4 linked regions of the Homo sapiens genome follow. The protein of the gene in region 4 interacts with the protein of the main gene of each other region in a biochemical or structural test. Each region holds a gene or a part of one and is shown on either strand. Other genes may lie near its edges. The genes, in order: MAGI3, NRCAM, CDH5 and PTPRB.

Region 1 (7,075 bases), on a different chromosome or scaffold from region 4:
TACCTAACATGAGGCTATTAAGAAGCTAAGAATACTATTTTTAAAAGAGATTAAAAATTTTAAATTACAACCTGCTTAGAAACAATATTAATCTCAAATAACACAGACATAATGGTATCTTGAGAAATTACTGACACAAAGTGTCTCTTCAAAAAACAAGTGTAGTATTCAGAACTTTATTACTAATGACTACAAAATGTTCTGTGGCCATTAATACGTTATTCCCTTTATTTTGGCTAAATCTTTAAAATAGAACAGTGTCTGTGGCTGTCAAGAGGGCAAAACTGTATTACTCTAATAATGTCAACTACATACGGGGGCATAGGATGTTTATTCAACACAGTTAATATTACTAATGCTCTAAATCTTGAATTATTGTTAAATATAATATAGAGGTTGAGAAAAATGTATAACAGGTAGATTAGACTAATGTTATGAAATAGCCATCTCTTCAGTCTTCTAAAAAAGATCACAATAATTTAGAATACACCAGCTTCCATGTCAATATATCAACTTTAAAATTTCTAAAAATAAGTTATATTCTCATCTATGCCCTAACGAATCAAAACAAAACACAAAGAAATGATGCAGATGTTCTCACTATTCACTAACTCATGGGATTTGAACTAAGATTTGGCAGCTAGACTAGTAAATGCTGTCTATATAGCCTTTTGCATATTACAGACAGTGCCTGACTAGCTGAATTACAGCCCCAAAAGTCTTTCCTCTGCCTTTCACACATGGCTGTAAAAGTTAGAGTTAAGAAAAAAATTTACAAATTCTCAAAACTATACAGAAAAAGCTGTTTAAAGTCTGCCAAAGTTTTAAAAAATTAACAACAATAAAAAGAAAACCTCACCACATAAACCCATACACTTAAAATGAATACGATGGAATACGCTATAGAAAGAAAATCTTAATTATGACCTTAGGAGCATGTGAGTCTGTGTGTATACATATCCACAATACACAGACATATGTAAACTGCACCACAAACCATCAAGCCCCATTAAGCTCAAGGACTATTAAAGATATATTAATATTTCCAAAGCGAGCTGCTGAGAAAGAAATGAGAAGGAGATAACATATTAAATTTTTATCCAGAATTTTCTAGCATTTTGCCATCAAGGGATGGACTGCTACCTAGCCCAGGTAACAATTAACCAGCCCATTATATTTTGATGCACCGTATACTCAGCAGAGCACATTAAGGAAAAACAGTTTGGTTTCTAATAATGTTACAATCACAATTCTCTCTCCCACAAACATCTAAGACGACAGAACCACATTCTATCTATGCTGAAACAAAACCAACAATGCTGTCTATAACAAATTCATAAGAACTACTACATACTATCAGATCTCACTGTATGCTGTCTCTGATCAATGCTTTGAAACTGACGAGTATGCCATAAACATAACGTGCTTTGCAGCAATTTTTACTAGCATAAAAGATACCAGGGCAACAGAGGCTCCTTTAACCTACCACTTCAACAAAATTCTGTAAAATCAAAAGCGTTACAGAAGCTTTCACTCCGCTAGGCACCTAGGTCTTCCTGCAAAACCCAGACTCTATTCAACAGCTCCCTGCAAGAACACACCAGTCTGCCACATATCACATATTGTACCGTCATCGGTACTCAGACACCTGAACCACCTGGACTGACAGAGTTAGGCTGTCAGCTCTGAGATGTCTGCTAGAGTGCAAGAAACACTGAAGCAGCTAAGCCCTTCCAGGTACACCAGGTGGTAACCTTGGCACCAAGTGCCTCTATAGTAAAGTCCCTTTTTCCCTGTTAGAAGATGCGTAAGATCGTTCCAAAGAAAATGTTACAATCCTAAGGGCCTTTTTGCACAACACAGGAAAAGGCTGGCCTTCTCTAGTCAAAAACTCTTGTCTGCGGGGGGAGATGGAGCTACAAATGTAGGAAACCCAGCTTCTAGTCGCAATTCTGTGACAGCTAGCACAGCTAGCAGAGCAACCGCGCCAAGCCAGAGCTCAGTTTTCCCTTCGGCAAAATGGGACTCACCAACGCCACCCCTCCCCCTCGTCAAGGAGTCTGGCACACCCTAGAGGTCTAAGATTACCCGGGACAATACGCGGTGGGGAGGTGCCGCCGCTCCCAGGACGCCCACCCTGAAGCCCCTCTCCCCAACACCCCGAGACAGATACGCAGGGCCGGCGTACCTGGTTTCACAGTCTTGAGACGGATGGGCTCGCGGAAGTGGCGGATGACAGCCAGGGTGTCCCGGTTGGTGAGCCCGCTGACAGGCGTCCCGTTTACCTCCAGCAGCACATCGCCTGGGCTGGGCGCCTTGCCCGAGACGACGCAGCAGGTGCCCCCGCCGGGCTCCTCGCGGAGCCGCCCCAGGTAGGGGAACTCGCCACGCTCCGCGCCACCGCGGATCTCCGCGCCGAAGTCGCCCGGGGGCCCGGCCCAGGACACGGCGCACTCCTGCACCTTGCTGAGCCAGTGCTTCTTCTTCTTCAGCGTCTTCGACATCCCGAACCCCGCTGCACCATGGGGGAGACCCCGCGCGGGCGGCCGGGGCGCCGCTCCGGCCCCGTCTCAGCCCGGGGGCCCTGGGCGGCCCGCGCAGCCCGGTAAGGGGGGCCTCGCCGCTCCGGCCCCCACCCCGCGACCACAGCCCGCTGGGGGCCCGGCCGTTCCCAGACGCGAGACGCCCCTTGGACGCCCCTCCCGGCTGCGCTCCCCGGGGCTGACCGGACTCCGCGAGGGCCACCGCGGGTTAGGCTGAAGAAAGGAAAAGGGAATTGTCCCCAGGAGGTTCCAGAAGGGGCTTCGGGCGGGGTCACTGCCGCCGGCTGGTCCCTGGGCTCAGCGCCCGAGCGGCGGGAAAGGCTGAGGCGGGGGGGCGGGGAGGTGAAGGGGGAAGAGCCGGGAACGGGAAAAATCCGTGGGGGGCGCGCAGAAGCGCGCGTAGACCCGTCGCGGGATCGATCGTGGCCGCTGCGGAGCTGTAGCGCGGAGACCAACGCCTGCCCAAGCTGCCAGGAAACTGCCGCTTTCAAACCAGCCGCAACCTCCTCCTCCTCCCTTTTCCCTTCCCCCGGCCCTCGCCCATCCCTCATCCAGAGCCCCGCCCCCTCCCGCCGCGCGGCGCCCGGCGCGCTGCCGTCACAGGCTGGGCGCTTGGGAACGAGCCCCGGCCCTGGACTCTCGCGCCAGGGATTGGCCCCCGGCGGGCAGGAGGCGGACCGCCAACGAGAATGGGGACCACTGGTTGGTCGGTGCGAGTGGAGGAGGCGGGCACTAGAATGACTGAAGTTTAGAGAGGGTGGAAAAAAGAAGTTTGGAGAGTGAGGGAGGGCGCAGAGGAGGGGCAGGGGAGTGGAAGGGGCTGTAGGTCGCAGGGCCGGGAGAGGCCCTCTGCGCGGCGGCTGGAGCCGAGGAAAACTCGAATCCGAGAGGGACCGAGCTCCCCGAAGTGGGGGCGTGGCCGGCGAGTTAGGCGGAGACGCGGGCGGAGCCTCTGAGCCTGTGCGGGGCGCAGAGAGGGGCCGGTGTGCTTAGATTGGAAGACAACGTGCGGAGTCCTGAGCCGGCCGAGGTTCCGGGGCCTTTAGGGTGGCCTGTTACAGCCGATAGTTTGCATTGAGTGGATATTGCTTGTTCATTCGTTCATTCAACAGATGTTACTGAACGCCCATTGAGGCAGGGCTTCGGAGTCCGGTTGATGAAAGATATTATAAAATAGAGTCCGGCACTGCTGTATGACCTAAGACAAATTAGACAACCTCTCTGAGCCGCAGCGTCCTCAGTGAAAAGTGAAGATTACAGAAGATGTACAAAATAACTGCATAGTGCCTGACAGTGGGTGGTTGCCTCTTAAAGTTTGGTAGCTGCTGCTGCTGCTGCTGATGACGATGACGATTTTGTGTTAGATATTGTGCTAGGTACTGGGATTCAAGGGTGAAGAAAACAGAAGCCCCGCTATTGAGGAGGTTACAGTCTAGTGGGAGAGACTGAGAAGTAAGCAGACTGCCTGAGGTGAGGGAGTGGGGTGGAGGTAGAAGGTGGATTATTAAGAACTAACCTGGTAGCCAGCAGATCTGGTTGGAGTCCTGACATGCTACTTACTTGCTGTTTGACCTTGGCCAAATCTCAGTTAAAGGAGGTGAAGGGAGAACGAACATTAAATAAAAGATATCGTAGATCCCTTCCAGCTCTAATTTTTCAGAAATTTCACTTGAGCTTTCTCTCTTCCCCGGCTTGACTTACACTCTTCCCTGTCTTTGGAATGCCCTTCATCTCATCTCTTTTAAAACTCCTATCCGTCCTCATCCCAAATGCCGGCTCTTCCAGGTAGCTTTCTCTGATTTCTTGCCCTCAAGTGGAAAGTGTTTTCTCTGAGCTATGATCTTTGTTTCACTTTTGCAGCATGACATTTATTTGTGTAGTCTCCTGTCTCCCTTTAATAGTAGGTGAAAGCCCTTATAAAACTCCACACCTCAGATAGACTGGACCAAGCTTCAATAGCTGCAGTGATTTCGTTGACACCATTGTATCAGTCAGGGTCCTGGCAGGAAACAAATGGCATTTTGCAAAGATGTGGGCAGGGTGTGGGAAACCACAAGAGAAGCTGGAACCCTGAGGCTACAGCTCCTAGATCTGTCCAATCGGGAAAGAACAGTTACCGAAAAATCCAGACACACAGGGCCACCTGACAGGAGTCTGTGACCTTCAGTCAACGGATGCAGTCAGCCTAAGTAAACACCCAGCAAAGGACCTGGGGGATTTATATCTAACTCACCACCCTCCTCCAGTCTCCTGCTGGTGCTTGTCAATGGCCAAGTCCAACCAGACGCCAGAGGGCAAGGGAGGCTTTTGATATAGTTCATATCAGTCAGTTTCAGAAAAGGAAACAGTGCATCTGAGGGGAAAATATTCAGCACAGACACCATGTGGATGGCTCAGATTTAACCATATCTGAGACAAAGCTTGGAGTATTTTTTTTCTAAACTACTACCTATACTAATGGATTCCTGGATAAAATCTCCATAACCTACACATCATCTGTTTTTGCAGGAACTCTGGGAAAACATCTTTCTGTGTCTAGATTGCATCTGTTAGAATGCCTTTGGCCTCAAGGAACAGAATATTTGGCAGTAGCTTAAAGCATGAGGTCATTTACTATATCTTCAATATAAATTTCAAGTGCAGATAGTTTCAGGGTTAGTTGAGCAGTACAATCATGTCATCAAGGACCCAAGCTCTTTTTTGTGTTTGCTCTCTGCCATCACATGCATGTGAGCTTTTGTCTCCAGGTTTGTCACCTCTTAATTGCAATGTGGCTGCCATAGCTCCAGACATCACATCCACAGAGGTCACTGCACAGAGCAGGAACGGAAGAAAAGGAAGTGCTGTCCCCCATTTTTATGAAGGAGAAAAATATTTCCCAGACTTTAGAATCTTCCTTATTGTCCAGAAAATGGTCATATGCCACATCAGACCAGTCACTGGCAAAAAGAGATAGGATTGGCCACAGTTCATTAAATTGATCACAAGTCACCCCTAAACAAAATGAGTGTTCTGACTGAGAGCAGAAAAGGGGAAATAGTTGCTAAGTAGGCATCCAACAGTGTTTGCCACATGCCTCAACCATGAATAAGTTGTATTCATTCTTGGGCAGAAAACTGCAGTGGTTCAGAGCTTGAGCAAATCAGACTGCAAATCCCAGCTTTTCTACTTACTGCAAATCCCAGCTTTTCTACTGCTAGCTCTGTGATCTTGAGCAAGCTATTTAACCTTGCCTATCCTCAATTTCCTCATCCACAAAATGGGTTTGATGACAGTGTTTACCTGAGTTGTTGTGAGAACTGTATGAAGCTATTTGAGTCAAGTAATTTGAGTCAAGCTATTTGATAACATAGGATGCAGCATAGAGCAAACAGTAAATTTTTATTTTAGTTTGTGCTAAATTGTACTATCTTTGACAAAGCTAAAAACATTGTATTAAATTCACCCATCTTAGTAAGCTTTGGTTCAGTTTTTAAAATATTCTAGAAATAAGCTACCCATGCTATTGAATTAATTCTGGTAGGATATTATTTTGGCAATTATTACATAAAGGGGTCATATTTTAAGCTTCTATCTCTAAAATGACACCTAATTAAATAATCGTATTGTATTCATGTTTATCACGACTTTCCAAAAATAATGGTTGGTTTAATAGTTGTGATTTCCATTGGGGAATATTAATAAACCAAACAACATGGAACAAAAATAATAAAAATAAATGAGGCAATTGAATTTGGTGATCTCCAAGGTTTCTTTGGGCTATCCCTATCTAATCTATCTAATCTATAGAGCTAGAGATAGCTATGTGTGTTAGGCCATTTTTGTGTCATTATAAAGAAATACCTGAGGCTGGGTAATTTATAAAGAAAAGAGGTTTAGTTGACTCACAGTTCTGCAGGCTGTACAAGCATGGCGCTGGTATCTGCTTGGCTTCCTGGTGAGGCCTCAGGTAGGATTCAGTCATGGTGAAAGGTGCAGCAGTGGCAGGCACATCACATGGTGAAAGTGGGAACAAGAGAGGGTGGAGGTGCCACACACTTTTAAACAACCAGGTCAGGTGTGAACTCACTCATCGCCAAGAAGACGGCACTAAGCCATTCATGAGGGATCCGTCCTGTCCCCATGATCAAAACACCTCCCACCAGGCCCCACCTCTGACACTGGGGATCACATTTCAACATGAGATTTGGAGGGGACAAATATCCAAAACATATCAATATGTTTCACTATGGAAACTTTACAAGTTCAGTCCCAAGATGGCTGCAGAGGCTCCAAGTATCACATCCACACACAATAATGGCTAAAGACTGAAAGGAGGGAAAAGGATATTTCCTTTCCTCATTTCCTTTTTGTAGATCAAGGAAGCCTTTCCCCGAAAGGCCTCCAGCAAGACTTCTCCTCTAGCTTCTTGGCCACAGTTTCCCAAATTTCCTTTACTAAATGAATCTTTGCCAAGGGTAATGAAATATCTTATTACTTATCCAGTATCACCTCTGGTACTCTGAAGGGGGCCCTGCCTCTTGGCTGCACAA
Region 2 (5,320 bases), on a different chromosome or scaffold from region 4:
CATGGAGGAGGGCAGCTCTGAGCCAGCAGGAGGTCTTGTCAGTGTGATGCTGGGACTAGGGGGCTGGAGAATAAGGGGCAGGTGGTGGAACATGGGAACACGCCAGGGCTTGGCTGTTTGCCAGAGGGTTTGAGAAGATTAGAAGCATGGGGGTGGAGAGAAGGGAGAGGGTGACATACATTCGATACCTGTAGTGTCCCTCTTCAGACAGGAGAGTTAAGAAATCTAAGTCGCCTGTGATTCGGGAGGGCAGAGTCCAGGCAAGCAGAAGAGAAGCGCCGGGCCCAGGCAGACACCAGGAGCCAGGCTTTGGGAAAGGAGGCACCACCTGATTTCTTGAACTTTTCTCAAAAGGCTGGGAATATCTAGTCCTGTTTTTCATTCAAATGTTTTTGATATGTCCTATTAGATCTGTTTTATATTTTGTTTTAATTTTCTCTGCATAGAACAGCCTTTTGAAAGTAAAAAATAAAATTTTTCACCATTTTAAAACATTAGGCAATATATGTTTGAAAAAGTTAAAAGTCACAAAGAGATCAAGACTGTTTAATAGTTACTTTTTTGAGGGAAATCCAGTCACATTTGCCTGTACCATTACATACACCATTACTTGGACATTCACACTCAATTGGGAACATAAATTACAAAAGAGAGAGGAACTTTTAAAACCACATTTAATTTTTAATACCAAATCTGTTGCACTATTACAGAAGTGACCCTTTCATGCACAGATAAATTTCGCATCTACCAGTATGGAAGAGGAAAAAATGTAGTTTTATTGTTCTCCCAAAATATTGGCAAATTTAAAGTAACTTTTAATCTTTGTGCTCTCTGATGCCAAGGCAAACCTGTTTTGTCTTTTTATATTTTCAAGAGACAGGTGGATCTGTGAAAAATGAATATAGAGACATGAAAGTATTTAGGGCCATCTTTACCTGGGATTACTTTAAATTATGCTTTACCTACATATATCAAACATGCCAGGTTACTAGGCCTACTGTGCCCCATAGGCAAAGCTCTGAAGATTTCATCGAAAAATCTGCTGTCAATACGTAGAAAAGTTCACTATTTCAGTTTCACAGCAAAAAAGGTGGGGGGAGGGGGGAACCCAATAGATATTTAAGTAGATGCTTTCCAATCCCATTCACTGCATTAATTAGCTTACCTCTTATACAGTACAACATAAACATTGCATGTTTATTTGTATGTAACACCTATAAGCATATAGCATCTACATTTTAAGTGTATTTACAAATTCAACAAAATATCTACATATAAAAAGCTTTACTTAAAATTAAACTTGATGCAAGTTATGAGAAACCAATTTATTGGCAAATGAAACTGAGCATTCCTTCAACCATAGGTTGTTATAGATTTTCATATTTGGAGGTAACCCATTTGATAGATATTGTTTATGAATACGATAGAATATATATTTACTTTTTAAACTGCAGATGTAATCCCTTGGACCGTTGGCCTTTTAAGCACTTGCCTGATTTCTTAGATTCTGAAATGTATCCATAACAATTTGCATACACGTTGTTTAATGCTGCAGAGTTTTGAACACTTACATAGGTAAAGTCTTGGAGAATAATATATTACTGTTGGCATGCTGTTGTATGCTTTTAGTGTTGGAATAACTTAGTTTTAAAATTAATTTTCTAGCATGTTGACATCTTTCTTACTGAATGTAATAGAAACCATAAAGGACCACAAAATCATCATGTGCTTCAGTTGGCAACAAAGATTTTCTTTTTATGCTTATGAGGAAATGCTATTTCTAATAAACTGTCTTATTTTTATTTTCATGTTTCCTTCTTTTCCCAGCATTGCAGTTTTCATGAACTCTGCTTTTTAAAAGTTACTTTTAGACAATGACAGTAATCTAGGACCCAGAATGGACTGGACCAGCTGATACAGAATGCACGATGTTGTGGAATGCTTAATATCTGAAGGCACTGTATGTGTCTTGCCCTGTGTTCTCTGAAATAATGTTTGAAATTTAATTTGGATGATTTGTTTTTGATTCTTTCAGTATGGCACAAATGCCGAAATGCACTGCAATACACATTGTTTATGCCTAAAAACAACCGAACATAGAAATGATGTAAAAAGTAGAACACTGTGCTGCTGTAATGCCTGGAAGATTAAGAAGCCTACGGAGTAACAGGAGCCAAGAGTAGGTAATAGTTCTCAGTAAGCATCAGCAATGTGACTGTCATAATGAACTCATTTAGCAAGTATATACTGTACAAACTGTTCCTAACAGTCTCCCAAAAAGACTAACGACAGCTATACATAGTCACCAATTTCACAACAATGTCCACAAAGACATTGAAGTTCTAGAGAATACTACAGTAACATTCTTGACAATGAAAACGGAATTCATATATAGGGGTTCAGCTGAGGGTAGTATAAACAAAGTATCAAACCATGTTTTCATAACATACACGGGTATGTCCTTTAAATGTGGAGCATTTTTCATGCATCATATTGAACTGTATCCTGCAGAGGAAATAACAGGATCTGTTGGTGATGTTGCATTATTTTTTATCAGTTCTGAGGAAATCAAGAATACCCATTTTGAATGAAAAAGTATGCACTTTGCATTCCAGTTCATATTAACATATCATTTGACTGAGTTATGTTTTTGCTGTAACTATTCTCATAATACTAACATACAGCAGAAAATATACTCTCTACCCATATGTTCATAGTATGAGAGGGCTGACAAACAAGTGCTTAGGATAAACATTCTAGAGAAATGGAATATTGGCAAAGAGCTTAAAAATTAAACAAAGGAATTCATGGCGTTGACAGGAGAAGGTGCCTCTGAGCTTTCGTTTCCTTCAGCCGGCTCTTTCTCTTTCTTACCACTGTATTGTCCAATAAAGGAGCCATCCTCATTGAACTGGCCATTAACCCCTTCTCCATAGTCAACTAGGCTGTCGTCACTATCTTCTTTTTTCACAGTCCTGTCTGAAGGAGTTCGACTTCCTTTTTTCAAAGGCTTGTGGTCTTCTGCATCACTGGAAGAAAGAGAAAACATTTTTGTCAAGATTGGCATTTAGGTAACATTTTCTGTTTTTAAAGACCATGCATGCAAATTATGAGAAAGCATTTGGAGTCCTGGGCTTCTCTGGCCAAATCTAATTTTCAGGTTGACTCCAATGACGAGGATGAGTTGGAATGGAAATCAGGAGCAGAAATGGTTGAATCATGAAGTCTTCAGTAGAGTGGATGGCTCCCAATAGTGTTTGTTAATTTCAATGACAAATTCTGATTCCTGAGTTGAAAGCAATCCAGAAATAATCACAAGCATTAAATAAGAAAGAATTCAGAAAAGTAGAAAAATCATCACTATTTTGAATTCAAAAAGGCAAAAGCTTATGGCAAGTAAAGAAGTTAGTATGTTAAACTGCATAATATCTCTGATTCCTTGGTTGTGAATGGAGCATGATTTTGGTTAAGTGTGAAATGTGGATTTTTTTTTTCTGAGCCAGAAGGAGAAGCAAAATCCTGCATTTCAAATAATTTTGTTATCAATGCAGGCCAGACTGTAAACTTCAACCTTACCTTTCAAGAGACCTACAAAATTCCATTAAAAGGATGCAGAAGAAACAAATGAAAACAGCCTAAGAAGAAAAGCAAAATCCTTATACTGATAGTACACAGTATTTTTTTGTTTTTTTGGTAAAAATTTTAGTTAATGAGTAAAGATTTATTAATCTGGAAAGAGACGCACTTTAACTTAAAAGCTCTACATTTGTACTATGAATGGCATGCCAATATATTCTAAAGAATGTGAATGACTCCAAACATGTAATAGCAAATGCTTCCTACACTCATGTTAACCCCCCAGCTCCCTTCTTCCTTGTGTGTTATGCAGCCTGACTATACTGGATGGGAATCTGAGGAGTGTACTTTAATACGACTTTACAAGATTCCATTATTACAATTTTTGCTTATTTCTCTGTTGAACCCGTAAGCACAATTTCTGGAAGACAAAGAGTAATCATTATGTTTTTGAATGTTCACCCATACGGTCAAATACCTAGTTATGCATATTGACCTATTTTTTAATAGGTAACATTTGGGAAAAAAATAGAAAAAGGCAATGACAGGATCTAACATTTTGTTTTCTTTCAAAGAACAAAAATGCAAGGCAAAATAGGAAACATATACATTTTTACTAATGTAAAAATGAAAAAGCCTTAACATACAAAAGGTATCACTGGCTGCAGTATTTAATCTAGCAATTTCTGCTAAGACTTTACTGCTCCCTCTGTTTCAGACAGTGACTTTTTTTTTCAAGCCAAGATACAAACATTTCAAGATGCACAAGTATCCTGGCTCTTTTGACAATAACTTTTACTAGGGATTTCAATTTTTCTCCAAGAAGAAAATCTGAAGACTGGGAAATAATGCTAGCATAATATGACACTGGCATATGCCACTGAAAACAACCTGTTTCAGTAATACACAATTTCTTATTGCAAACTGAATAAACTATATTTTCACCACTGCTAATAAACAACTGGAGAGGTATCATCTTGGGGTGGTCTGTGTTTGTGAGCATTTCAGAGGACATAGCATTGAGTGTCTAACCTGTTATGAAAATAGCCTACACAACATCTCTGGGGTTTAATTATTAAATCCTTCTTGTGAAATATAGTTCATGTTTCAGTGTGACAGTTAATTCAGCTGAAGAGTTCAATAACAGGCAGAATTTGTCACCTGGATTCCAATGACTAGTCTTATTCTGCTCTGTAGAACTAGTGTCCCAAGGAATACACTGCTGGAAATTTGTCATCTGTGGCATTTCTTTGGTCTAGCCATCTATCCACCCATGCCTTCATCCAATAAATGTTTATTGAGTGACTACTCTAAGATAGATTGTTCTCGGCACTGGGAATATAGCAGCAAACAAAACAGACTAAAACCCTCACCTCACTGGCTTTATTTCTAGTGGAAGAAAATACAATTAACAATCAACATAATAAAAAAAATTACATATATATTATGTCAGAAGAGGATTAGCACTATGCAAAGTATAGAGCTGAGTAAAGACTGCAGAAGGTGTTGGAGAAGGGATGGAGAGCTGGCATTTAATAAGATGTCCAGGAAGACCTCATCAAGCAGTAATATCTGGTCAACAACTTTAAAAGAGTTGAGTTAGCAAGGTGAATAGTTGGAGGGAGAGCAGTTCCTGCAGGAGTAACAAGCAGTATAAATGTCTCGGGGTGAGGGGAAGCCTGGCAGGTTCTAGGAACACTAAGGAGCTTGGTGTGGCTGGGGGGAGGGAGAGAGAGAGAGAGAA
Region 3 (6,963 bases), on a different chromosome or scaffold from region 4:
TAGTCTATCCCCTTGCCTTCTAAAGGGACAGCTCCAAACTTCAAGGAGAGAACACCCATGCTAAGGAGGCTTCCAGACTCCTCTGGGCTTCCTGACTTTGTCTGGGACTGTCAGGGCAGTGCGGGGAACAGAATGAGGCCCTTGCACCTGCCTATTTGAACCTGCCCAGCTGCTCGGGAGCTGTGTGACCTTGGGTTCATCTCTTGCTTGCTGAGCCTCAGCTTCCTTATCTGTAATGGAGGCAACAATAGCTGCCTCCCTGGGCAGGAGGATTAAATGAGATCATGGGTGCAAAGCCTGGCACACAGTAGGTGCTCAGTAAGGGTGCAGGTGTCTTGACTCCTATCTACCCGCCCTCTCCAGCCTGGTGGGTGTGGCTTTGACTGGCCAACTTACGCTTGACCTCATTTCCTGGCTCTACTCTGGGCCCACCTCCTACTCTTTCTGTTCCTCTGCAGAAGGAAATCTCATTCACCACCAGCCCGGCCTGCCCCTGGGTCCCACTTCCTCCTCCTTCTAGTATCTGGACCTGCCAGGATCTGACTGTTTTGCTATGGTCCAAGGCAGACAACCTGGAAATCCCTGAATTAGTTTAGGGACCATCCCCTACTCTCAAGAGATGGGAAGACTGAGGTGCAGGCTGCAGAGGGGCTGCCCAAGGCCTCCTAGCATCTGGGATTCCCACTCTTCCTCCAGCAAGCCCTCCATGATTTACCCACTTAACACCAGCTTGAACCTGGATCAGGACAGACTTTTTAGTATCTCCTCAGCCAGAGGTGAAGCTCCTGAGGCCCTGCCTCCTAGAACATTCCTTCCCCTGGTATCACTGGGCTCCTGGCTTGTCCCTGTGCCTGCCTCTGTGGCCTGGACTGCTCTGCTTTCCCCCTCTCTGAGCTTCACTGTGGAGTGTGGCATGGACTGTGGGTCAGAAGGAACCGCACTCACCCTGCTTCTACCTTGTGTTGGTTGTGTGACCTTGGACTGGCTGCACAGCTTCCCTCAGCCTCGATGGTCCCATCTGTCAAATGGGAATTCTCATAGTTGCTTCAGTGTGACTGAGGGGGTGCAGAGAGAGGATACAGGGAACAGTCATGGGTCCATGTGGGCAAAATGAGCCTAAGATTCTTCCTGGGATGGTGTCCCCTCTGTCCCCTGGGTGTCCCCAAGTCAGCAGTGAATCATCCAACTTTGCAGAAAATGTGTGGCCCCTGCTGGCTTCCTGCCCTCATGTCCGGCCCTTGTTTGGCAACACAATAGCTCAGGCTGAGGCTGCAGGCGGGCAGCTTAACCCCTTCCAGGCCAGTATACACCTCCCCTACCCCTCACCACCATAAGCTGAAATTGGTAGGGCTGCTCAGGGGCTCAGCAGCTCTTGGGCCCCTTGGTGGATACCTGCTGCTCTCTAGGGCAGGCAGAGGAGAGTCCCAGGCTTCCCACCACCTGAGGATGGACCAGGGCTTCTGGCCCTGGCTCCAGTGGCCTGTGGCAAAAGAGCCTTCCAGGTACACCCTCGACTCCTCAAAGCTGCCTCCCTGGGAATGCCCTTCCTCTCTTGTCAGAATCCTATCTGCCCATCACACATGAGAAACGTCCACGCTGGGGAGGGAGCCTGACATGGAGCAGAGGCCCAGAGGTGCTCGCGATGTCCTCTCACTTGCACCCCCTTCCTCGTACCTGCTGGGCACCTGAGGACCCCTCCGTGATGGGGTTTGACCATACCTCAAGGGCCAAAATCTTTATCACATTCACAACCAGGATCGGCTCTGTGCTAGCTGGTAAATCCAGCCACTATTCCTTAAAGATCTCATGTTATGTGCCATTCCCAGCACCAGGGATGTAGCTCACTTCACTCAATTGACTGAGGAAACACTGTTTCCCCATTTCACAGATGAGACACTTGAGACCTGGGGAGAGCTGGGGCTTTGGAGTACGAGATCCTGGTTCAAATCCCCACACCAGCTCATATGTTTCCAAAGCTCAGTTGCTTTCACTGAGATATAAAGAAAGAATGTATCTACCTTGTGGAGTTGTTAATGGTAAAATAATGAGCCCCACACCATCCCTTGTTCCCCACTGTGGTTTGGAAACTCTGGGTAACTTTCCCAAGGTCACCCCAGAGCAAATGGGAGAGCTGGGATCTGTACCCAGGGCAGCTGTCTCCAGGCCAGGCTCTTGGCCCAGACCTCCTGCTTCTGGGGGACTTCCTGGGCTGTGGGGGCCTTGGGGCTCTTATGCTCTAGCCTTTGAAAGGGTGCTGGTGGGAGGAATGGTGGACCGCTGTCCAGACTACAGCTCCCTTGACACATAGTGGGCCCCGATGGTGTTTGGGCAGGGAAAGGCCCAGAGGGAAAGGCAAGACCTCAAGTGCCCAGAGCCAAGCCTCAGCTTGCCTATCCTGAAATGGGGGCACTGGCTGACCGAGAGGGGCCAAGGCTCGGAGCTTCCTTTTCAGGGCCCCTCCCCAGATCCCAGCATAGAGCTTTAGTGGCGTATGGGTAGGGGGCTGAGGAGGCTGGTGTCAGGCCTTGGTAAATCCTCTCCAGTAAGGGTAAGGCACCGAGGGGAGGCCAAGGCCTGGGTGCCAGTCCTCTGCCCCGGCATGCTGGGCAACTGGGGCAGAATACTGCCCTCTCTGAGCCTGGCACTGATGAAGGCCAGTGGGCCTTTTTGAGTTGGAGAATACACTTCTGGGAGAGCCAAGCCCTTGCCCTGCCCCCCTCAGCCCCGAGATGCCCATTTGTGCCCTTGGCACTACCTCTGGGTGCACCTTCCCCGACCCTGCTCTGAGCCACGAGGAGGCCCAGCGTGCCCTCGAGGAGCCTCTCTGTCATGGGAGTGGGACGATGCCCATTCTACAGATGGGGAAGCTGAGGACCCTCCCATCTTGGGCGCAGGGTGGCGGGTTTGGGGTGGAGGGGAGTGTGGGAGCCCCCACTCACCGTGCCTGTGGGCTGAGGGATGTTTCTGTTCCGTTGGACTGCCTGTCCGTCCAGGGCTGAGCGTGAGTGGAGCTCTGTGGAGCCTGTCAGCCGACCGTCTTTGGAGGGGAGCCACACCCCGCTGGCGAGGGAGGCCTGGCTGCCTCCCCTTCAGGTTTTCCAGCTGGCCCTGGCCCACTTCCCCCTGGGATGGTTTCCTGTTATTGTTCCTTTGTGAGGGCTGGGCTGGCTGCAGATAGGCAGGCCCTGCGGTGGGCGGCTGCCTCGGCCCCGGATGGCTGTCTCCACAGAGGGCTGGCACTGGACCCTGCCTGGGGCACCCCACTTGAACCCCTACTCCCGGCCTCAGCTCTGGGACTCTGAACCCAGCACCTGCAAAGAGCCTGGCTGTGGGGACCCTTGGCTGCAGCATCACATTTAACCCTCCTTGGAATGCTACAGGCAGGTGTCATCACCCCCATTTTATAGCCCGGGAAGCTGAGGCTCAGCGGGTTTAAGGTGCTTGTCCACCCAGCTGGGGTATAAAAGAGCCAAAAATCTAGCTGGGGTCAGCCTAGCCCCAGAGCTTGATTTTCTGTGGTGATCCCATGATGTCTTTGTGGGAATGGACTTTAAAGGTGACAGGGAGGCTTCAGGAGATGGGAAAGGGACAGAAGCTCTTGGCTCTGGAGGACCAGGTTGGCTTCTCCTGGTCAGAGCGGGCATGGACTCCAGCTCTAAGGTGCCAGCCTCGGTCTGTAGGGGATGTTTGCATTTAGGGATATTGGGTGGAGTCAAGTGACCCAGCTCTGCTTCTGATGTGACCTCTGGCCAGTTGTGTCATCCTGGAGCCACAGTTTCCTCATCTGTAAAATGGGGATAATCACAGCCTCATCCTCACAAGGCTTTTGACATAAACGAGAATCAAAGAGGGGCGTGGAAGACAGTGACGCTGAGGCTGGATCAGAGCCCAGAAGAACCAAGAGGCTGGGGGGAAGGGAGGGGCCAAGATTCTGCTGACCAGGAGAGACATAGGAGGAGCTTCTAAAAACTACAGAGGACTGGGCTCACCCCAGATCAACTGATTTGGAATCTCCCAGGGCAGATCCTGGGAATCTGTCCTTTGAAGAGTTGCTTCTGTTTTTCCATGGGTGAATGGTTGGGAAGTCCCAAACTTGTTTTATTATATAGCTGGGCAAGCAGAGACCCTGAGAAAGAGAGGGCCCAGGGCCGTTTAGTAAATCAGAGCACAAGATGGGGAGTGTGATGGAAGGATATTTTTGGAGGAGGAGGGGATAGTGATTCCTCTGTCTCAGGCAGGTTGAGTTTGAGATGCTCGTTAGATACCCAGGTGGAGGTGTCAGGCTGGTGGGGGAGACAGGGGTGAGTCCAGCCTGGAGTCGAGGTTTGGAACCCAACAGCTTATGGCTGGCATCTGAGGCCATGGGCATGGATGAGCTTGGAGGGAGGGAGGACTTGGACCCTCTGACATTTGGGGATCCATTAGAAGAGGGTCCCATGATGAAGGAGGAATGCCAGGAGAGGGCAGAGGAGGAGGGCAGGGGAGTAGTCAGTGGGTCAGCCTGGGGAGCATGAGGGCTGAGACTTAACTTTGGATTTGGAAGATGAGGTCATCAATGACTGTGACCAGAACAGGTTAAACAGGAAAAGGTAGACAAGACAGATTGGAGGGGCTAGAGAAAGGGGAGAAAGGGGGACGGGGATGTGGAGTCACGTGTGACTGTAGCTTCTTCCCCAAGTCTTACAGTGAATGGGAGCAGAGAAGTGGGAGGGTTTTTTTTTTTTTTTTTTTTTTTTTTTTTTAACTATGGCAGCACGCTCATGTCCCCAGGGAGCATCCAGCAGACGGGAAGACAGATGATGCTGGAGACTGAGGAGCGACCTGCTGGAAGGAGAACAGTCCTTGGGGCGGAATTCTGAGTGGGATCCAACACATTCAACAGCCGATTGTGGAATGAACAAACAACAGCTCAGCGCTTCCTTCTCCAATGGGATTAACTCTGCTTTCTCCTGCCCAGAGGGGGGGTTGGCCGCAGAGGAGCCAGGACAGTGCTCTGTCCCCTGTGTTCCAGTCCACATCCCCCTCACCCCCGCCTGTCCTCATGGTCTACGTGCCCATGGGGATACACTGGCCTGTGCATTGCTTCCTGCTGGGTCTCAGACTCGGGGCTGTGGCAGATGGGGACAGGGCCTGTCCTGGCACCATCTGCCAATTCCCTTTGTACTCCCAGTCCATGAGGAAGTTGACTCTGCCCTGAAAACGACTGTTCCTGTGGTCCATAAACAAAGGAATGGTGAGCCAGGCATGAGCTGTGGGCCCCAGGGGTGGGGCTGGGGGTCACCGTAGCAGAGGTAGCTGAGACTGTGGGAGGGAGGCTGGTGCCTCCTTGGTCCCCCTGAGGATTTCATGCCTGATTTCTGGCACTGCCCAGCCTCTGCTCCAACCTCTCTGGAGGCAAAGGAGGTAACAGGAGGGCACAAGGCCAGGAAGTGTCATTGGGAGCAAGGAAGGCGGCTGGTGGGCTAGCAGGAAATGGGATGGTCTGTGAGACCAGATTAGTAGCAGAGGAGGAAGCAACAGTGGAGGCAGTGGGGGTGGGATGGCGGGTGGGACGACAAGGCCTGGGGACGCCCACCTGGCCTCTGCCAGGAGGAAGCCTGACCCGACAGGGAGCGCTGCTTGGGGAGGTACAGGTGTGGGGGTTGCAGACCCAGGTTTGGATCCTAGCATGACCCGTTGCTGCCTGCATGACCTGGGCAGCCGACTTGCCTCTCTGAGCTTCTTTCCTCACCTGTGAAATGAGTTATCTGTTCAGACTTTGCAGGCCGTTTGGAAGATGAAATGAGACAATGAAAATAAATGACAGGACCAGCAAGCCTTATCGAGTGGCTGTTTCTCAAAGTGTGGTCTTCAAGCCATCCATCCTGGGAGAGGGGGAGTGAATATGCAGATTTCTTGGGCCCCACTCCAGGCTGATGGGGTCAGAATGGCTGGTGATAGAATCCCAGGACTTATGTGTTTGTAGCTCCCCAGGAAACGTGTTTGTGTTGTTACATTTGAGGACCACAGCCTTTGTGTCTGCTGCTAATGCACTAAGCTCTCCTTGGGACTCCTCATTCAAACCTCAGGACAACCCTGCGGGGGTGGTACTACTGTTAGGCCCATTTTACAGATGGGAAAACAGAGGCTGGGAGTGAAAGCCTTTCTGAGATCAGAGTTTGTCAGTGGTGGGGCGGAAATTCCGAGCCACGCTTCTGTTTCCAGAGCCCAGCTCCTTACCCAGGGAGCTTTCCTGCCCTGCTGTAATTGAGTCGGGACACAGCAGGGGTTCCCCAAATAAGACTTCCTTTTCCTTCCTCCCCACAGCGTGAGACACCCAAGGATGGGGCAGGAAAACGATGCCATCAGCTTGGCAGGGGCGGTCGTGGTGAAGCCCTGCAGCCTCACGCCTCAGGACTTTGCCCATGCTGTTCCACCTTGTGTGTTTCCTTCTCTCTCCTTCCTCGCCTGTGCGCAGAGCCCTGGCAGAGCCACCCAGATCTCATTGTCTCTACACTCCACTCCCTCTTCTGAGCTCCCAGGGCACTTTATACAGACCTCATTCACAACCCTCCTCTCCTTTCCCACCGGGATTGTGTCCTATTTGGGTGCTTATCCCCAGCACCTGGTAATAGGTGAGTGCTCCCCAAATGTGAACTTGAAACTGTGCACTCATTAGAACCGGCAGTCAGCCCGCTGCTCCCCGGGTCAGAGAGACTGGGGGGAGAGTCGAGTGTTTTGTGTTCTAAGGCAGGTGATGGTCTGATGGCAGAGGGCTTGATGAGCCCATCTGCTCAGTTACGGGCAAAGGAAAAACCCTTTTGCCCAGCTGGCTGTGCTGTGCTGAGGGGCGGACACACCTCCAGGGAACATAAAATAGGGCTGCTCACCTGAGGTAGTCTCAGAAGGGGCTCAGAAGGAGGAAGAGCGGGAAGGAGGAGCAGGGAGGGGTCTCATCCTCAGCTGTGATTCTACAAGGAACAG
Region 4 (7,032 bases):
TGAAGGACAGTGATCTTTCCACTAAAATATGAAAAAGGCAAAAGGGCAAACTCATAACTCTGGAAATAGTCATGGCGTCTCTTTACCAAATGCCACACTGTCCGCAAATGTGTGAAGTGTCTCTGAAGGGCTCAGTGGAAATCTAGCCAGGGCAGTACCTCTGAGAGTACACCAACACTGTTGGTAACAGATGACATTTTGGTTATTAATGAAGTAAAGAACTGAAAACAGGAATTTAGTTGGAGACGGTCAGCTGGAGAGTCTATTATTATGTACACAATACTGTAGGTAACCAACTCAGTACTTACAGGACTAAAGGTTAAGACAACTATATTCTTCATGATAATGTCCTGGAAGATTTTTCTCATTTTAAAGCAGTCACTTTTGGCCTTTCTCCTGAACAGACAGATGACAAAAATTGATAAATGAGGAGCAGGTGAATAGAAGACAGAGCACTCTCCTTCAACAAACTGCAGTTTTATTCCTGTACTAGTGAGAATGTATGCAAGATGCTATATAGATTTTTTTTTTACCACAGTTACAAATATAAAAATGTATTAAGCAAATACATAATTTAAATTGAAAGACTAAGGAAGTTCTTTGTTCAAATACAGTTAGTTAGAAATATTGTGGGTAGATGCTATAATATGAAAAAATAGAATCATCTGCCATCTTAACTGGATTTTCAGAGAAATAATAAATGATATTAAAAACATAAAAGTGCTCTATTATAGAACATAAAAAGTTCAGTTGCTGTATTTACTTACATTATTTATGCTTCACACAAATGAAGGAATGGCTAGATTAACCTGCACGGACAACAGTATTATTGGACACTGACTACCTAACATCCAAAATATCAGGCCAGGAGCAATTTCAAGAAGTGTGTGTAGAATGTCTATGAGCTGTGCACTAATTTCCACAAGGTAGGAGTCGAGACGAGATTAAAGACTTGGTCCTTGTTCTTGAGGAATTTATAAGCCCAATAGTCCTGCATAGAAAACCAGAAATACTCTTCCAGTAGAGCACTGGTGCACCCTCTTGTCAGTGTGGCAGACTAGGACATTCCACAAAGGCTGGTACAGGCTTTCCTACTAACCTGCAGATGGAATGCTGTCCAACTCTGCCACAAACTCTTAAAGCCACAATTTCATGTGTTCCTTTCTTGATGGAGGTGCTTATCTACGCACACAGCTATTAGAACATCTCAGCATAACTGAACGTTTGTTCTTGGGGTGAGGATATTATTTATTAAAATAGCTATAACCAATTCTTTTTGTGACTGTTCTAGAAGGGACACATTGCATTTGTCTGACATTATTCACAGTTTTGAATAACTTATTTTGGTGTCTTATATAAGATCATGTGAATTGGCATAGAGGTTATAAAAATAATCTTTGGTAAACCTGTTAATCTCTTATTTCCATTACATAAGCCTCTATTTTCAGAGCATTCACCAACAATTTCTTTATTTAATAAGTGTATCTTATATAGACAATCTTTTAAAAAATAAAATGCCTTATTTGTGTTGCATACATTTATTCCGAGGGAGCCTCCCTACAAGTCAAGAGTATTCTCTTAGCCAGAAATACTTCTATTGCTAGAAACATTTTTAGAACAGAACAGATTTTTCCTGTTATCATGGCTGCATCAAATGTTACCCTGCATTTTAACTAAAATGGCCAAACATTTTCAAAGTCATCATGCACTACAAGAATCTAAGGCAGTGTGTCTAAAATGCCAAACCCAGTACATTTAGTTAAATATCTGGTCAATTCAAAAAGCAAAATAAATTGATTCAATTGTTTAATCAGTTAAACCATCTGGCCAACATAGAGTGAATCCTCAAAAGGGCAACATGTCCTAATAGAAACGTGTGACAGGATTGTCCAAGCACACCCAGGCCACACAGAAGAGATGCCATTTTATCTTCATGATGATGTCTGGTTAGATTCTGTTTTGCAAATATTTTCTCTTTGCATCATTTCACTTGCTTTTTGCAGTCATCGTTTACAGATTTTCCTTTGATAGGGAACATTCTTTGAATACCTGATGTAATTCTAAATTTCAGGTTAAAAATAGCAGGGCAGAAAATTAGCACGGCATTTTCTCCTTCAACTCTTCAGGAATGAGGTAGGCTTGAGGGCTTGCTCACTGCAACTTGGAGGAGGATCAGTTATTCCTTATTGCCACTCTGTCTTGGCTAATCAGTTATATTTTCATTTCCTCAGTGAAATGGAACCCAGAAAGCCCTTGAACTGCTATCATATACAAGCAGTTTATTACCTATTGATTTTCACCAGGTCAGGTTTGGTCTGGCTCATGTTTGTAAACTAAAACTCTAGAGCGTCTCAGAGTTTGGGCTCAGATACTACCACTGCTGTTGTGCAGATCTGGTAGCTTTATGATTTCAGGATTCCAACCTCAAAGAATTCTTAGAAAGCTAAGTGAATGAGAATTTAGTATATGGCCAATAATATTATTGCAAAAGGTAAGGAAAATGTTTAACATAAGAAACTGGATCCTTAAACAGCAAGGCAAGAGAATCAGCATGTGAAGGGTAGCATGTGAGGTCTATTTTTATATTGCTGGACATCTGGTAAATGGTTTAATATTATTTTCACATGTCATTTTGGGCTTTCTTCCGAGAGGTGATTACAAAATTTATCAAAGACCCTCCCAAAGAAAACTGCCCCGAAAATGTCTGTGTGCTGTGTGCCTTTTAGTATTTAAAAGTGAATTGGCCAGGTGCGGTGGCTCACTCTTGTAATCCTAGCACTTTGGGAGGTTGAGGTGGGTGGATCACCTAAGGTCACGAGTTCAAGACCAGCCTGGCCAACATGGTGAAACCCCATCTCTACTAAAAACACAAAAATTAGCCAGACATGGTGGCAGGCACCTGTAATTCCAGCTACTTGGGAGGCTAAGGCAGAATCGCTTGAACCTGGGAGGCGGAGGTTGTAGTGAGCTGAGATTGTGCCACTGCACTCCAGCCTGGGCAACAGAGCAAGACTTCATTTCAAAAAAAAGTGAAATTATGGTCATCTCTTTGATGATGTGGAACCTGAAAGGACTATGAAATTATACTCATGGGTATAAAAGATAATATGAACAGTAGATAAAAATCACATTCAACTGGGAAAACAAACATATTCAAGTAGGAGGAGTGGGGCAAGTAATAAAACAGAGGGACTCAGAGGTTTAAGGGATAGAGAATTACTTAGGACAAATATGTGCAAGCCCAGGTAAGAGAGGTGAGTCTTTGAAAATTCTGATTCAAGAGCTGAACAATTGGCTGCTTTCCAGAGAACAACAGAATGACAATACAAAATTGATTTAATGAGATGAGGTTAAAGGAGTTAATTATAACGAACTTGGAAAAATAATTATTAAGATGCTAGATGGGACTCTCCCAAGATTTGATAGCTCAAAAGCACTTTGAAGTCTTGATGATTAAAGTGTACTGCACAGGTACACAGACAGGATGCCCACCAAGACAGGAAATGGAGTGTTTACCAAGACATAACACATGATGCAATTAAATGGAAATAAATCCAATAGAGCTGAATGTCAAGGAAAACTTTTTTTTTCTCCTAAATTTAATAAATAAGTCAATTATATATTTAGTCTTCCCAGGAGTAGGAGCGAATAGTGAAATATTTGTTGCTAAGAAGGTTTAAAATTAGGTGTAGGGTAGGAATAAACATTTCCTGGGTTGGATTAGACTAAAAAAACCTACGATTTTTCCCTGTCATGTCCATTTACATAATTCTGATACTACCCTAGATGTTGCCAGAGTACGTGAGTGTTATTTACTATTACAGATGCATAGGTTTTTTTTATGGTTTTAACTCCTGGTTTGTGCAATTAATTGCTCTCTCTCCTAGATCCAGAGGTTTGCTATTAAAGTAGCATTAGCACTTTCCAGTGTGTGGCCTGTGGAAGGTGACCACTGTCCTAGACTGGCTCAGTTATCCCATTCCCTTGATGAGGCTGTCTTTTAAGCTCAATTGAAGGTAGTAACAACAATCCTAACTTTATGAGGATTCTCTTTATGTGAGTAGAAATGTGTAGATTCTGGAACAGTGCCTAGCAGGTTGCAGATACTTACTAGAAGTTTTCTGAGTGAATGAAAAGTCGAAAATGAATGTATCCTTCCAAGCATTAATGTGCTTTGCATCAAGCAACATTAGTGTAAAATTCTGCTTTTTCTCTTTTTTCTTTTCAATGTAGGAAAGGTGATTTCTAATGGATGCCACACGTTGTAGATCTCTGACCTCTATTTTCTCGCTGGTGGTACATCTACTGCACTTACACATATGTTGTTCCTTTTCATTTCCAGAAGATTCACTTAGTTCCTTGATACAGAATCAGAGCTTAAGACTGTCATTTCACAAGAGCATTGAGCACAATGAAACTGTGAATCTTTGAAGCTTATGATTATGCTTCACATTTTTGTAAACTTCAAATAACCTTGGAAAAATTTCCAGATTGGGTGTAGAGTTATTTAATTATAAAGAACTATTTTAGGTATAGTCAATGATTTTCAATTATTATGTCAATTACATTCGTTGTATTCACTTACGGACTTTATGGTAGGTTACAAAAATATATACTTTGAAAAGAAATATACTCTTTATGCAAAGGAAGCTATGCCATCAACAAACTTGACCTCTAATTCCCAAGTTTATTACAGAAAAATTTGTAGTGTGAAAAAGGCAAACATCTCCAGCTCATCTTCTCAGGTATCTATGAAGATTCCGTACAAACTCCTTTCAAATTTTTCCCAGGAATGCTGTCGGAACTGGACCTTGATGAAGGAAATACTTTCTGACTCATTGGAATTTGTTATAGTCAAAGTAAGTAAGGCACAAATATTGAAGATAAACTTGGTACAGTATGTAGTGCCTTTTGTTATTAAATGCAACTTTGGGTGATTACTTGACATTTTGACTTCATTGATTTACTAAAAGAAGTTTTGAAAATTTTACTGAAGACCACTGTTTTTGTTTTTGCTATTGTTTTTAAATTTACTATATATGATGTTTGTAGTCATTTCTATGAAAATGTTGGCATTAAGCCTTTTAATGAGGGGCACAATCTGCTACCATAATATTCTTTTAATGGGAAATCAAGTAGGAATGGATAATTGTGACTTTTCTAGGAATGGAGACCACTGAAAATGAGACAGAAACTAGTGTGTATAAATACATTACAGTATGGGTGTGGATGTTCACACTCCACACCATGAATGCAATGAAAGGATCTCTAATCACTGTAGATAGTGCTTTGCATGTTATGTTTCCAGTCTGGGTATAGCTGGCATCTTATTAACAAAAGGAATTCATCACTTCTGTTTGGAATCATTCTCTATCAGAACCCTCAACCCTGCATCCTACCATCCTGGGCTTGCACTGCAAGTTACATGATCCCTGAGCTGACCACTTTGGCTTGAATCCCTGGAAGGAGAAAGGAGAGAGAGAGCAACTAGTTCAGACACAAGCATCTAGTTCAGCTTTGGTACTGCTTAATTCTTTTTTCTCCCTCCCTCTAATCCTTTTTTTGACTGTCACATTTGTCCTAATAGCAAGTTAGGACATGTCTGTTGGCTCTCGAGATTCATGGGACAGCAATGCAGCAAATCTAGCCATAGTATTTGCTCTCTCTAGCCCTGCCCTTTTTCCTGTCCAGTGAATATCAAAACAGGTAGAAAACATGGCCTGAAGGATTGTCTCTGCCACCACCTCCATATGCATTTTACCAGTAGTCCTGTCATACAGGTTGAATTAGTTTTATGTAGAACAAGTCATGAACACTTTAGTGTGGAAAAATAGTATTATATAAAGCTTAATATTAAACATTATGAAAAATACATATTTACAGAAGAAACTACAAAATACAACTATGTACAATAATATCTGTTACCTTTAAATTATATAAAATTTTAAACATTCTCCAGATTAATAAATTATACATAGTATCAACAGAAATAGCTGGCACCTCTGTAGGGCATGAAGCAAGTTTTTAAAAACAAATCACACAGTGAATAATTTTTATCCAGGAGCTCTTCAGGTACATTCTCAATGCCTTGAATAGACTGGATCTGAAAGGAAGAACACTGTAATTAGAGACTGCCGCAGGGTGTGTCATAATTGTTTACGCTGTTTATGAAAATTACCAATGTGAAAGACCAGCAGAAACATATAGCTCAACCTAGTTTAAGATGAGACCATTCCTATTGGGACCAGGTAATTCCATTTAGAAAGACAGATTATTAGACTTGGAAGGGACTAGTGATTCTAGCCCATCGCCTCTGTTTTTATGGATGAAGCCATAGGCCCAGAGAGGCAGAGTAACTTACTCAGGGTTACACAGCTTGTTACAGCTAGTTAGTTCGAGAGTTCGGACCTGAATCTTAGCCTTCAGCTACGTGGTGGTTATCCTTTTCTATACCATAGTTAGCTTCTTTCAGGAGTGCTCAAGATTACTCTAAAAAAAGATTCTTAAGTCAAAACAAGACAAAGGAACCTCCAAGATCCCTCAGAACTTGCTCATACTGAAGCCTCTTAAGGAATCTCCCATGCAAAAACCTTAATTTACTATACAGATCAATTAGGGTGTAATTTGTAATTATTCATAATACAAAATAATTATCTGATTTACAAAGGACTCCTCTAAATAGTAGCTCTTTATTTGTGCTTTACAGATGCTAACTCATTAACATACTGGCTAGGCTGGGTGGTAGAGAGAACTAAGTAAAAGGTTAGGAGACACTACCTGTTGAAGATCATTTAGAATGGAGATAAGAGGGTATGAAATAATGTTTGTCAAAGAAAGATTATCTGATTTATAGAGAGATACCAGTCCACATGGCAAGGAATTGTGGCTGCATCTGCCCACAGCCATGTGAACAAGCCATTATGAAGCGAGTCCTCCAGCCCCAGTCAAACCTTCAGATAATGGCAGCCCCAGTCTAAGTCTTGACTGCAACCTCCTGAAAGACTCTGGGCCAGAGCCACCAGTGAGACAATA

The links.
Region 1: the proteins of PTPRB (region 4) and MAGI3 form a complex in vitro, tested with the Homo sapiens proteins (one study listed by BioGRID).
Region 2: the proteins of PTPRB (region 4) and NRCAM form a complex in vitro, tested with the Homo sapiens proteins (one study listed by BioGRID).
Region 3: of the proteins of PTPRB (region 4) and CDH5, one has a biochemical effect on the other in vitro, tested with the Homo sapiens proteins (one study listed by BioGRID).

The regions. Positions count from the first base shown.
Region 1 is NC_000001.11:113,386,463-113,393,537, reverse strand, and holds the start of MAGI3 (membrane-associated guanylate kinase, WW and PDZ domain-containing protein 3), read right to left. Parts: upstream 3,024-7,075; 5' UTR 2,505-3,023; coding exon 2,189-2,504; intron 1-2,188.
Region 2 is NC_000007.14:108,147,119-108,152,438, forward strand, and holds the end of NRCAM (neuronal cell adhesion molecule isoform A precursor), read right to left. Parts: intron 3,636-5,320; coding exon of another isoform or gene 3,602-3,635; exon of another isoform or gene 3,589-3,601; coding exon of another isoform or gene 3,577-3,588; intron 3,030-3,576; coding exon 2,792-3,029; 3' UTR 531-2,791; downstream 1-530. UniProt on the Homo sapiens protein: Cell adhesion protein that is required for normal responses to cell-cell contacts in brain and in the peripheral nervous system. Plays a role in neurite outgrowth in response to contactin binding.
Region 3 is NC_000016.10:66,362,735-66,369,697, reverse strand, and holds the start of CDH5 (cadherin-5 preproprotein), read right to left. Parts: upstream 3,008-6,963; 5' UTR 2,940-3,007; intron 1,056-2,939; exon of another isoform or gene 946-1,055; intron 1-945. UniProt on the Homo sapiens protein: Cadherins are calcium-dependent cell adhesion proteins. They preferentially interact with themselves in a homophilic manner in connecting cells; cadherins may thus contribute to the sorting of heterogeneous cell types.
Region 4 is NC_000012.12:70,515,409-70,522,440, forward strand, and holds the end of PTPRB (receptor-type tyrosine-protein phosphatase beta), read right to left. Parts: exon of another isoform or gene 6,104-7,032; coding exon 6,081-6,103; 3' UTR 462-6,080; downstream 1-461. UniProt on the Homo sapiens protein: Plays an important role in blood vessel remodeling and angiogenesis. Not necessary for the initial formation of blood vessels, but is essential for their maintenance and remodeling. Can induce dephosphorylation of TEK/TIE2, CDH5/VE-cadherin and KDR/VEGFR-2.